3 linked regions of the Homo sapiens genome follow. The protein of the gene in region 2 purifies or fractionates together with the protein of the main gene of each other region. This does not show direct contact. Each region holds a gene or a part of one and is shown on either strand. Other genes may lie near its edges.

What was found.
Region 1: the proteins of CSGALNACT1 (region 2) and ATP2B3 purify together in Homo sapiens (affinity purification with mass spectrometry; 3 studies listed by BioGRID and IntAct, with this or other methods). This does not show direct contact.
Region 3: the proteins of CSGALNACT1 (region 2) and TMX4 purify together in Homo sapiens (affinity purification with mass spectrometry; 3 studies listed by BioGRID and IntAct, with this or other methods). This does not show direct contact.

What each region holds. Positions count from the first base shown.
Region 1 is NC_000023.11:153,516,050-153,519,797, forward strand, and holds the start of ATP2B3 (plasma membrane calcium-transporting ATPase 3), read left to right. Parts: upstream 1-1,592; 5' UTR 1,593-1,826; intron 1,827-2,382; 5' UTR 2,383-2,502; intron 2,503-3,748. UniProt on the Homo sapiens protein: ATP-driven Ca(2+) ion pump involved in the maintenance of basal intracellular Ca(2+) levels at the presynaptic terminals. Uses ATP as an energy source to transport cytosolic Ca(2+) ions across the plasma membrane to the extracellular compartment.
Region 2 is NC_000008.11:19,407,679-19,411,326, reverse strand, and holds part of CSGALNACT1 (chondroitin sulfate N-acetylgalactosaminyltransferase 1), read left to right. Parts: intron 1-1,902; exon of another isoform or gene 1,903-2,089; intron 2,090-2,632; coding exon 2,633-2,714; exon of another isoform or gene 2,715-2,719; intron 2,720-3,648. UniProt on the Homo sapiens protein: Transfers 1,4-N-acetylgalactosamine (GalNAc) from UDP-GalNAc to the non-reducing end of glucuronic acid (GlcUA). Required for addition of the first GalNAc to the core tetrasaccharide linker and for elongation of chondroitin chains.
Region 3 is NC_000020.11:8,017,553-8,021,300, reverse strand, and holds the start of TMX4 (thioredoxin-related transmembrane protein 4 precursor), read left to right. Parts: upstream 1-1,539; 5' UTR 1,540-1,687; coding exon 1,688-1,863; intron 1,864-3,748.

The sequences.
Region 1 (3,748 bases), on a different chromosome or scaffold from region 2:
GGAGTGTGTGTGTGAGTGTGACTGTGAGTAACTGTGTGTGAGTGTGTGTGTATGTATGTGCCCATGTGTGTGCTCACTGGGTAAGTGTGTGAGTTGTGTAGGTGTGAGAGCATGTAAATATGTGTGAACCATTGTGTAACTGTGTGGGCCACCGAGCTTGTGTGGGTGAGGGTGAGTGAGCACATATGACTGTGAGGATGTGTCTGCGTGAGATTGTGAGTGTGTGCATGAGTGTGTGAGTGTGTGTTTGTGTAAGTAGGTGAGTGAGCATGAGTTCATGCATATGAGCAGGTGTGAGTATGTGTGCGTGCATGTGAGTGGGTGTGAGTAAGCATGTGTGAGCGCACACATGACCAGGTGTATGAGTGTGTGTGTGCGTGCGTGCGCGAACCTCAGCTTTCCACGGCACCAGCTGCTTCCTGTGGAAGGGAGGGGCAGTCTGTGGGGGTTGTGACGGTTCCCTGGTCTCAGGGGCAGCAGAAGCTTTCTGTCCTTTTGGTCCCTAGCACAGTGGTGCCTCCTCAAAGAGGCCTTCCCTGAGCCGCCAGCAGCCTCTTTCATGGCTCCCCATCAATGGGGTTCCATAGCTCCGACCCCAGCGGCGTGAGCACATTTGCCATCCGACGGCCACTCCCTGCTTTGTGGTCCCTGCTGTGTCCCCAGTATTCAGCTCTGGTCTGGCACACAGCATGTCCAGGGCCCTCTTTGTCCAAGGCAAGAAAGAATTTGAGGCTGCGTCCAGGCCTCTTGCACCTGCCTCAGGCTCCCGCCCAGAGCCTCTACCTGTGCCCCAGCGAGCATTCTCTGCTCGCTGCTCAGAATGCTCGCAAAGGCCGGCCCTGGGGTCAGAGGCCTCCACAGCCCCTGGAGCTGGGAAGCCTGGGGGTCCACCGGCAGGCACGGGGGTCTCTTTCCAGGTAGGTGGGAACGCGTGCTTGTGGGTGTGGACAGGTGTCTGCACTGGGGTTTGTCTGTGTGTCTGTCTCCACTCACACCGGGGATGTATGTGCCCCTGCGTGTCTGTCTCTGGTGCCCACCTGTGTGCAGTCTCTGTGTTCTGCCTAACGGTGGTGTTCCCGTGATAACCGACGGTGAGGATCTCCGGTAAGCGCCGCTTCCTCTGGGAAGACGCATTTGGACGCCCGTACTCTCAACAGGTAATGGAGTTTGCAGGAGACCACCAATGCCTTGGAGTCCACTGAGGCAAGACCCAAGGACCCCACGCTACACATCAGCCACCCGGCTCTGTGCCCCATTTTACTGTTGGGGAGACGCACCTAGAGGGCAGGGTCTGGAGAGGTAGTGGCAGCCTCAGTCGCAAGCTCAGGGTGCTCTCTCTGCACTCACAGGTGCCATGGTCCCCCAGTTTCCATCCCCACCCACCCCCACTCGGCCAGTGCCCTTTGGGGGCAATGCCAGGCCAGGAAGGGCGGGCACCCTCGCGCGTCCTGGGGACAGAAGGGCGCGCACCGGGCGCGTAGCTCCTGAGCCCCGAGGCCCCTGCGCCGCGCACCGCCCCCCGCGCCCGCTCCCTCCTCCCTCCCTCCTCCTCACCCAGCTCCCTCCCCTCCCCCCTCCCTCCCTCCGCGCTCAGAGCTGCGGTTGGAGCCGAGCGCGCCGCGTCGCCCGCCGCCGGTGCAGAGCGTGGGGAGCACTCGGCCGCAGCCCTCGCCCGCCGCAGAGGGTCGCGTCCCGCGCCGCCGGCCAGGCCGCCCCGTGCCCAGGCCTTTCCATCCTTGGAGCGGATCGTTGCCCGCCTGACGCCCGCCCGCAGCGACAGCGCCCGCCGGAGCCGAGGCCGCGGCGGCGGCCGTGCCCATGCCCGGGTAAGTGGTGCTCTGGGCGCGCGGGCGCCGCCGGGGTGGGCGCGGGCGCGGCGCGGGCACAAGGCGCGGGTGGGGATGGGAGGATGACCCGGCAGGTGGTGCGGCGGCAGGTAGGGGGACACGGGTCCCCGCCCGAGGCACCTGAGCCCCGCGCCGGGCCTGCGTGTCCTTGCGGCACTGCGGCCGCGCGTCACCCCGGGGCCCCAGGCCGGCGGGCAGCGCCCCGCACCCTGCACCCTGCGCCCCGCATCGCGCGCGCACGCGCATCCGTGTCTGAGGAACAAGGCCCTTGGGGGCTGCGGGCCGGGGCTCAGGGTGGGCGCAGCCGGGGGCGCGGGATCTGGGCCGGGAGCCCGCCAGTGCGCACGCACCTTCCCGGAGCCTCGGGCACCCCCTCCCCCCCGCGCCCTCACACTGTATCATCCTTCCCCTCTCGCCTTCCCGCACCGTTCCCCGCACGCCCACGCGGCTGCCCAGCAGACCCCACCGCGGTCATGGGCAGTGCCCACGAGAAGCCGCCCGGGGCCGCACTTAGGTAACTTCTCCATCCCTCCAGGAACGGCTGTCTCCCCCTCCTCGCCTGTGTGACCTTGGCCAGCCAGCTTTTCCTGTGGCCGCCTGCGTTTTCTCACGGGTGAAAGCTCTGGCTTTAAGATTCTGGAATTTGGAATGGCAGGTGCGGCATCTCCCAGAGCCTGAGACGATGGGCTTCTCTCTCTGTGACCTGGTGTCCTTCCTTCTGCTGGCCCTTCTGGGGGTTGGTGGCTCAGCCAGCCGGCTGAGGAGGGGTGGGAGGCAGGGCAGGGGCATGGCGCCGGGGCAGGTCAGGACTGGAGGGAGTCTTGGAGAGCCCGCGGTGAGGGCTCCATGAGGGTTTAGGAGAGACTGTGGAAATGCTCCTTCGCTCACTCAAGGGGCAGGGAAGGGACCAGAATTCCTCAACGAGATGCTTGCCATTTCCTGGCGAGGTCATATAACTTTCAAAGATGAAGCCCAGGGCCTCCGACCTCAAAGGAGTCCCTGCCTGCTAAAGGATCAAGTCCAGCCTGTCCCCAACTGGCCCCCATCCTGAATTCCACTGGCACCCTAAACGTCAGCCGACTTCCCCTGGCTGACTTGGGCACCAGTCTGGCAGGCACCCCCTGCACCTCCTCCCCTCCTTTGCCCACTAGGATCTGTGCCCTCACCCCCTGCCATTGCCCCTCACTAGTCAGTGACCATCTTAAGGCAAGGACTGGCTCTTCATTTGCACAGGCCTGGCACAGAGTGGGCACCTGGTTTCTGCATGGCATATTCATGACCTTGACCTCACTGAATCTGCAGACTCACTGAACAGGAGAGGCAAGGCCTGGATTTTTGTCCCCATTTTTCAGATGGGATCATTGAGGCCCCCAAGAGGAGAAGGGATTCAGCCCTGAATTGAGGCCCCTTCCTTCATGAGCAGATGGCTAGGGACATTCCTATGAACCTGGTGGGGCAGGGAGGCGGGGAGAGGTTATCGTAATAATCAAAGACCAGCCCCACTTCCTGAGCTCCATCTGAGTCTCACCTCAACCACACGAGTGAATGGCTGTTTTCATCCCCAACCCCCACCCCCCGCCGCCACTTTTCACAGATGAGGAAACCGAAGCCATGTGGCTCATTAAAGGGGCACTGGGATGCCGAGGAGAGGGCTGGGGATGCCTGGGCCCCTGTGGGACACAGCTGAGACCCAGCAGAGGGTCCCAGGGTGAGGTCAGCCCCTCAAGTCTGCGCCATCGGAACGGGCTGGGAACTTGTGGTCCCCGGCCATTGATTGTCACTGCTGCAGGCCCCGAGGCGGGGGACAGCCAAGGACACAGCCAGTCTCCATCAGCTCCACCTGGGCCGTGCCCTGCACGGCCAGGTGGTTTGAGTGCAGGAGTAGGCATGCTCTCACACAG
Region 2 (3,648 bases):
TCAGCAAACAGAGAAGCAGATGCATCAACGGGATCATTTCAGAAGCCAGAATTGTTACAGAGAAAATAAACCAGGGGTCCAGTGCAGCAAGTGGCATTAGGGTGGCAGGTGCATAACATGGGCCAGGAGGGTCAGGACGACCACTCTGAATAGTGACATTGGAGCACAGCTTAGTGGTGTGTGGGGAAAGGGTGACCCAGGCAGGAAGGACTGCAAGTATCTGGCCTTGGAGACCTGTGAGCATGGAGAATCCAAGAGGGAGAAAATGGGCCTTATATAGGGCAGAAGGATAAGAAGAAATGAGATGGCTGACGATTAGGGAACCCTTGCAGGGCTTCACATGGGAACGTGATATAATCGGATGTGTGCTTGAGGGCACACACTCCCGCCAGACTGCTATTGAGCGCGTCCTTCCAGTTAGCGACCCAGCACAGCTGTGGGTGGTGGAACCTCGACTGAGGGAACTCCGTCTTGCCCTGAAATTACATGCTGTGGGCATGACCAGATGAGTTTCCACAAAGGGCTAAATTTCAACAAGCTCTTCAGATAGTGGCTTTTTGTGGCTTGCCAACTTCCAAACTGACTTTAATAAATGTTTACACAACTCACTCCCCAGCTCATAAGCCAGACTGCCTCCATCACGCTGTTCCCATGTGAGGGTCCCCCTTCACCTTGTTCAACCTCGAAAGGCCCTACATCAGTGCAGCCCAGAGTCTCTGGATGCCTCCCTCTTGTCTTCCTTCCCAAGGCTTGGCCAATTGTTTTTCCTGTTCGGAGCGTTCCTTTTTAAATTCCATGTGATCCTCAGCGAAATATTTGAAGATTGGATACTGGCACTTCTCTTTGACTCCATTTTTACCCATAAGCTTAGGGAACTTGTCTAGGTTGCCAGCAGAAGGAATATTAGTCTATTCGCTGCAATGGAAACCATGTACCTGGTAAGGCGGGGATGGAACAAAGTCCATATTTTAAAAAATGACTCCGTGGAGACTTTTCCAGACTTTGCCGCCTTACAAAATCTTTCCAGTTGATACTAATGAAATTGACTTGTCATTTGGGAGATACTGTATAACGGTCCCGTACTCTGAAGTAGAACTTGAGAATACTTGCTGGGGACAACTTTAAGCAACAGAAACTCTCTTGGTTCTACTTTCCTTGAGCAGTCCTGATGCTTGCAGGAGAGGGTGGCAGCAGGTCCCCATTCCCTGTGGAATGTAAGTGACATGGTGGAAGTGACATCTACCTGTAGATTGTAGTGAAAGTAAGACAGTTTCATATGTTACAGAGTTAAAGAACATTTAAGATTCATCAGCCCTTCTGCAAGCCATTTATCAAATATAATTAGCCTGTGGTGAAACTTCAGGAAGGGGGAAGATGTGATAAACACTTGGATGTGAAAGCTGAAAGACACCTAAGGGATGAGTGAATTTAACCCCCTTGTTTTATAAGGAAAAAAAAATAGATGCATGAAGAAGTGAAGGAGGCTGCCTGAAGTGAAAAAGCCAGCCAGTGGTCACATTGGGCCAAGACTCTGATGCTTCTCCCCTCTCATGTACCGTTTCTAATTAACGATGAACAGAACCAGATGTCCCCAACAAAATCTATACAAATCCAAGTGGGGAAAGAGGAACCTGCTGCTGCCCTCTCTACCTTTCCCCAGAGGACAGGATGTGGGGGTGTCCTTTCACCTAAGCACCTATGTTAACTGCAAGAATGAATTATGAAAAATAACTAAGATCTCAAAACTGTTCCCAGAGTTCTCTCAGCTGAATACGTGTTTGTGTATATGTGTTTGTGTGTGTGTTTCTCTCTCTCTCTCTCTCTCTATATATATATATATGTACACATGCAGTTTTGAAAAGCCTTGCTGTTTCAGCAAATATATTGGAAATTTACTTGCAGAGTAAGAGACTGGGCAGTGTCTGGATGGCCTCTCCGCAGCCCTGCAGGCTGGCACCACGGTAGATGCTTTTGGGAGCAGTTTGGTTTTAAAATAGCGTGAAGATGAATGGACAGAGTCTTTCTTCAGAAGCTGGACTTCTAGTGCCCTTTTCCTCAGCAAGCGAGAGTTAACAGAGTTGGAGAGCTGGTAACATACTGAAGTCTCTCAGATATTTCTTTTTATTCCCCAAGGGAGTCCTGTGAGTGGACCGTGCCAGGGCAGCTGAATTCTGAGTTGTTCTCTATCCCTTTTCTCAACTTCCTGAGCCCTTTGCTGGCTCGCTGCCCAGGCTTGTGTAAGGGGCCCAAGCCTCCGATTCTCGCTGGCACTGGTGTGGGGCCAGGCACGTAGGTGGCTTTTCCACGGCACTGCTCAAAGACTGGCTCTCCCGGTTTTTGTTTTTGATTGTGTGTGTGTGTGTGTGTGTGTGTGTGTTTTCATATCTATGCCCTAGAAACATTCCAGCCAGAGGTGCCAAAAATCACAAGACCTTGTTTTGGGACTGGTGTGTGTACTGTATTCCTGACTGTCTGCAAGGACTCAAATCCATCTGCGTTTCCTGCACCAGTGGAGGCTGTTTATCAGTGATGGGATGGGCTCCACACTCCACGGTGGCTCACAGGAGTTTGTGAACACTCTATTTTTGTCCACCCTAAACTTTCCCCTCAAATGACAGTGCTTTTCTTGCAGGTCATAAAGAAGGAAACTGGATTTTGGAGAGACTTTGGATTTGGGATGACGTGTCAGTATCGGTCAGACTTCATCAATATAGGTAGGACAAATCTGCATCTCTACTGCCACCCAGAGGCCACGGGCCCATGTAGGCCTTGAAGGAATCAAGTAGGGTTTCCAAGGAGTCTGGTTGGGAAGGTGGTACCATTGCCTTCAAAAAAAAAAAAAAAAAAAAAAAAAAAAAGCTATTCCAGACTAGGTGCGGTGGCTCACACCTGTAATCCCAGTGCTTTGGGAGGTTAGAGGAGGGGGGATCACTTGAGGCCAGGAGTTCAAGACCAACTTGGACAACATAGCGATTCTCCTAAAGAGAATCACTCCAAAAAGAAAATCAAATGCTGTTCCTGATGTCATAGACTCAGGGCTGGACCAAGAGGGGGCCTGGTAGTAGGTGGCATTTTAGCCCCTATGATCTCCACCAGCACCTCTCAGTCATTCCAAATAAGACACACAATCTGAGATTAAAGGCTGCTTATTGCATCCAGGCAGCTTTGCAGCAAGTCTTCCAGTGCCTCCTCCCAGCGGGGTCCTGGCTGCTCTGCCCTCTCCTGTAGAACATCCTAAGCCTCCCAGTAAGGGTATGAGGGAAATAGGGGAACTGGGAGGAAGCACATATTCAAAAAGACCCACATTTCTCTCTGCTAACCTTCAAAATTCCAAATGTCACTTTAAGCTCTGACTAAATGTGCAGTTGCTGCCAATACACACACACACACACACACACACACACACACACACACACACACAATTCATATACACAAATGTCCACATGCACACACAATTCATATACACAAATGCCCACATGCGCACACAATTCATATACACAAATGTCCACATGCGCACACAATTCATATACACAAATGTCCACATGTGCACACAATTCATATACACAAATGTCCACATGCACACACAATTCATACACAAATATGCACATGCGCACGCCTGTGGTTTTCTAGAGCACAGAGAGAAAAGGC
Region 3 (3,748 bases), on a different chromosome or scaffold from region 2:
AAGATGCCAATCATGGTCTGACAGCAACAGGTCCCTTACCCTGGTCTGTGACTCCTTACGGCAAGGTCAGTCCCATACTTCCTTGCTACTTTCTTCCTACCATCCTTAGTCTGAAGGCTAAGACTTCAGTTTTTGTTAAAGATAGGAAATGCTTTGGTAATGGCTGTCTTTCATGCTGAAGATGCTCTCTCTCCTTTTAGCTTTTCATTTTGTAAATTTTCCAACATATGCATGAGTAGGTAAAGTAGCAAAATGAACTTAGCTTCAACACTGACTGATGTTGCACCACTTTTCTTTCACCTATCTTCTTTCCATTCCCTACATTTTATTTCTGGAGCATTGTAAAACAAATTCTACACATCATTCTATCATGAAAGTGATAAAATGACAGAATTCCTGTTTATGAGTCACTTCTTTTTACAAGCACAGTAAAATGTTTTCCATTGAGTTTATGGAATTGATATGTATGTACTTAATAACAGTGAGTCTTAGTAGCATTCATTGCAAAGACATTTTCTTAAATTTCAATAGTTTGTAAACCCTTGAGTGTTTTATTTTAATGATAAGGGCTAGGTCCACATAGTTTTTAGCTAATACTAATTAATGCATAATGCAGGCCAGATCTTCTCTTCAGGCAAAATTAACTTCCCTCTCCTATAAGTATTGATTGAAATTTGCTCTCATGTGCCCTGAAGTACTTTTAGTCTTATTGCTGTCTTTGTTTTAAGCCGAGGGCAGAAACCACATCCTTTTCATGGTCTATTAACCACATTACCGAGGTTCATGGTTTGCACAACTAGTAAACACATACAAAGCACCCTTTGAGAAAGCTTCCTCATCCTTTAATTGTAATCCAGTCTTATATATTAACGGTGTGGTGGTCCCAAGGTACAGATTCATCTAATGTGACCTGGAAAGAAATTTGGAAATCACTTAAGGCTACCCTCATTTTAGATCTGACAAAACTGTAGTCAAGAGAAATGTGAGGTCCATTTTACTGCAGGTGGCAATAGTCTTAATTGACTCATTTTATCGGCTAGTACCCATGTTTTTAAGAGTTTCTATGAAATTAACATTTTTTGTAAAAAAAATGCAATTGCATAGGCTAGTTTCATCAATATCCTAAATTAGTGATGCTTCAATATACACATGCAGAGTACTTAAATTTTCCTCTCTCTTCAGCAGGAGATACTCACCACGTCCCTCCATTTTTCATTAAACATACGTGTACCTTGCAGCCCGTTGCTTTTATATTTGCTATCATTGAAGAGGGGATGGATTTTAAAATTACTGGCCATGTTTCCCTTTAGAGAAGCCCACACGCGCCAACCCTGCCCTTATTGGAGCCTGGGCAGCAGCGGTGCATGTTCTAACTTAGGCAACGTTGGGTCATCTGTTTATTGTCAGCTTGGCGGTCAGGAAGAAAGGGCGGTGGTTGCTGAGGTAACCGACACCCCGGGCAACGGCAAGTGGAGGCGGGAGGGGGCGTGGCCTCGACGGGCAAGCGGCGATAAGAGGTGGCGTCCTCCGCGGCATTGCGAGCACCGCCAGTCTGCGCCGCTAGGCGTAGGCGGGGTGGCCCTTGCGTCTCCCGCTTCCTTGAAAAACCCGGCGGGCGAGCGAGGCTGCGGGCCGGCCGCTGCCCTTCCCCACACTCCCCGCCGAGAAGCCTCGCTCGGCGCCCAACATGGCGGGTGGGCGCTGCGGCCCGCAGCTAACGGCGCTCCTGGCCGCCTGGATCGCGGCTGTGGCGGCGACGGCAGGCCCCGAGGAGGCCGCGCTGCCGCCGGAGCAGAGCCGGGTCCAGCCCATGACCGCCTCCAACTGGACGCTGGTGATGGAGGGCGAGTGGATGCTGAAATTGTGAGTGTGCCCGCCCGCCCCGGACGCCGCAGTGTCCTCGCGGGCGTCACCCTCCCAAGCCCGCGCGGCCCGGTGGCGATCCCGCATTGCCGCTTGGGCTCAACCTAAAACCCCGGACCAGGCTTGCCAACAACCTGCGGCGCCGGTGCCGGGCCGCTTGCGATCCTGCACTGCCGCTGGGCTCGACCTGGGGTCCGCGGACCCGCCTTACCAACGACCTGCGGCTGTGGGGCCCGGCCGCTCGCGCCGCGCATGCGCGCCGAGCCCTCGCGGTGACAGCCGAGGGTGCAGCGCGTCCCCTTGCTTTGGGGGACAGTGTTTTCGGGGTGGAGTGGGCAGCTTCCCATAGGGAGGAGAAGGGAAGGAAGAAAATCTGCAAGCAAACCGTGTGCTTTTAGATACAGATATGTATTGGAAGAGAAAGGACATTCAGTGACATCCACGTGCAGTATGAATACGTAGCACAGGCTAAGCAAGTTACCTGTTGAAGAAATTGCAGCACGGTGAAGGCAGGCCATTTGTGTCGTAGTCTTCCGTTTGAAGACCTGGAGATGTCATTGTGAGAATAAAACATAAATATGGATGCCTTTTAAATTTTACAGTATGATTTCAAATAAATGTTGATACTTATTATAACTTGTAAAGGTAGGACTTTCTGAGTAATATTAATAATTGTGCCATAAAGAAAAGAAGATACGCATTGCCCCTTTTAACAATAGAAAGCAAATGGTGGATAGTGCCTTTTCTTTAAGGAGATGGGAAACTACAGTTTTGAGTTAGGAGAAAGAAAGGGATTTGTTGATTATAGTTTAACCTTATAATAGGAAGTGACCATTTGAAAGAGGCTTGCAGTGGATGGTGGGCAGATGTCTGAGCGGGCTTGAGAGACCATCATGGTGGGCTTGCAGACTCTCTCTCTCTCTCTCTCTCTCTCTCTCTCTCTCTCTCTCTCTCTCCCCCTCCCTCCCTCCCTCCCTCCCTCCCTCCCCCTCTCTCTCTCTCTCCTCTCTCTCTTCTCTCTCTCTCTCTCTCCCTCCCTCCCTCCCTCTCTCTCTCTCTCCTCTCTCTCCTCTCTCTCTCTCTCTCTCCCTCCTCTCTCTCTCTCTCTCTCTCTGTCTCTCTCTCCCCTCCCACAACTCCTTTCCACCCTACCTGCCCCCCTCCCGCCCCCACCCCCCAAACATAAAATCTTTCAGGAAATTGCCACATCTCTTTAGCCTGTGGTTTCTGGCAATCTGTATACTACTATTGAATCTTTGTTTTACGTTGAGGACACAGACAGAAAATTGGATCTTTCCTTTATCCAAGACCAAGTTTTGATTCTTTCAATTTAAATTGCAAGCAGGTGCCTATGGAGTGAAAACCTCAGTGTGAGATCAGAGCCAAAATTTATGTCACACAGCAGATTACATTGCTCGAAGAACATAAGGCATATCACCCCTTCAAATGTGCATTTACCTCTTAGTCACAAAGAAGGGGATATTTTAGACCTCCAAATGAAATACCCTTGGTATCATAATAAATCAATGAAATTATTAAAGGGAACTGTAGACATGAATTATTAAAATATTCCACTTAACTATTTTTGGAAGAAGGTGAGGGGGTCATATTCTATTTGAGAAACTTTTAAAATAAGTGGAGCTGTGTTAAGACTTCCATGTTTGTAATAATTTTAAGAGTTTGGGATAAACTGCATTTTGTCAGCCAATACTACAGAAAGTTCTCTTTTCAGTAGGTGCTTACAAAATGGACTTTTTCCTAGATGTCATCTTTCAGGGTAAAACTGAGTTTGCATATGTATGTAAGAAAAGTTAAAACAGAAAGGCCTCCTCATTTTTAATGACTTCAACTCCTCTATGGTTCCTTTTGGAATTGCTTTTTTTTT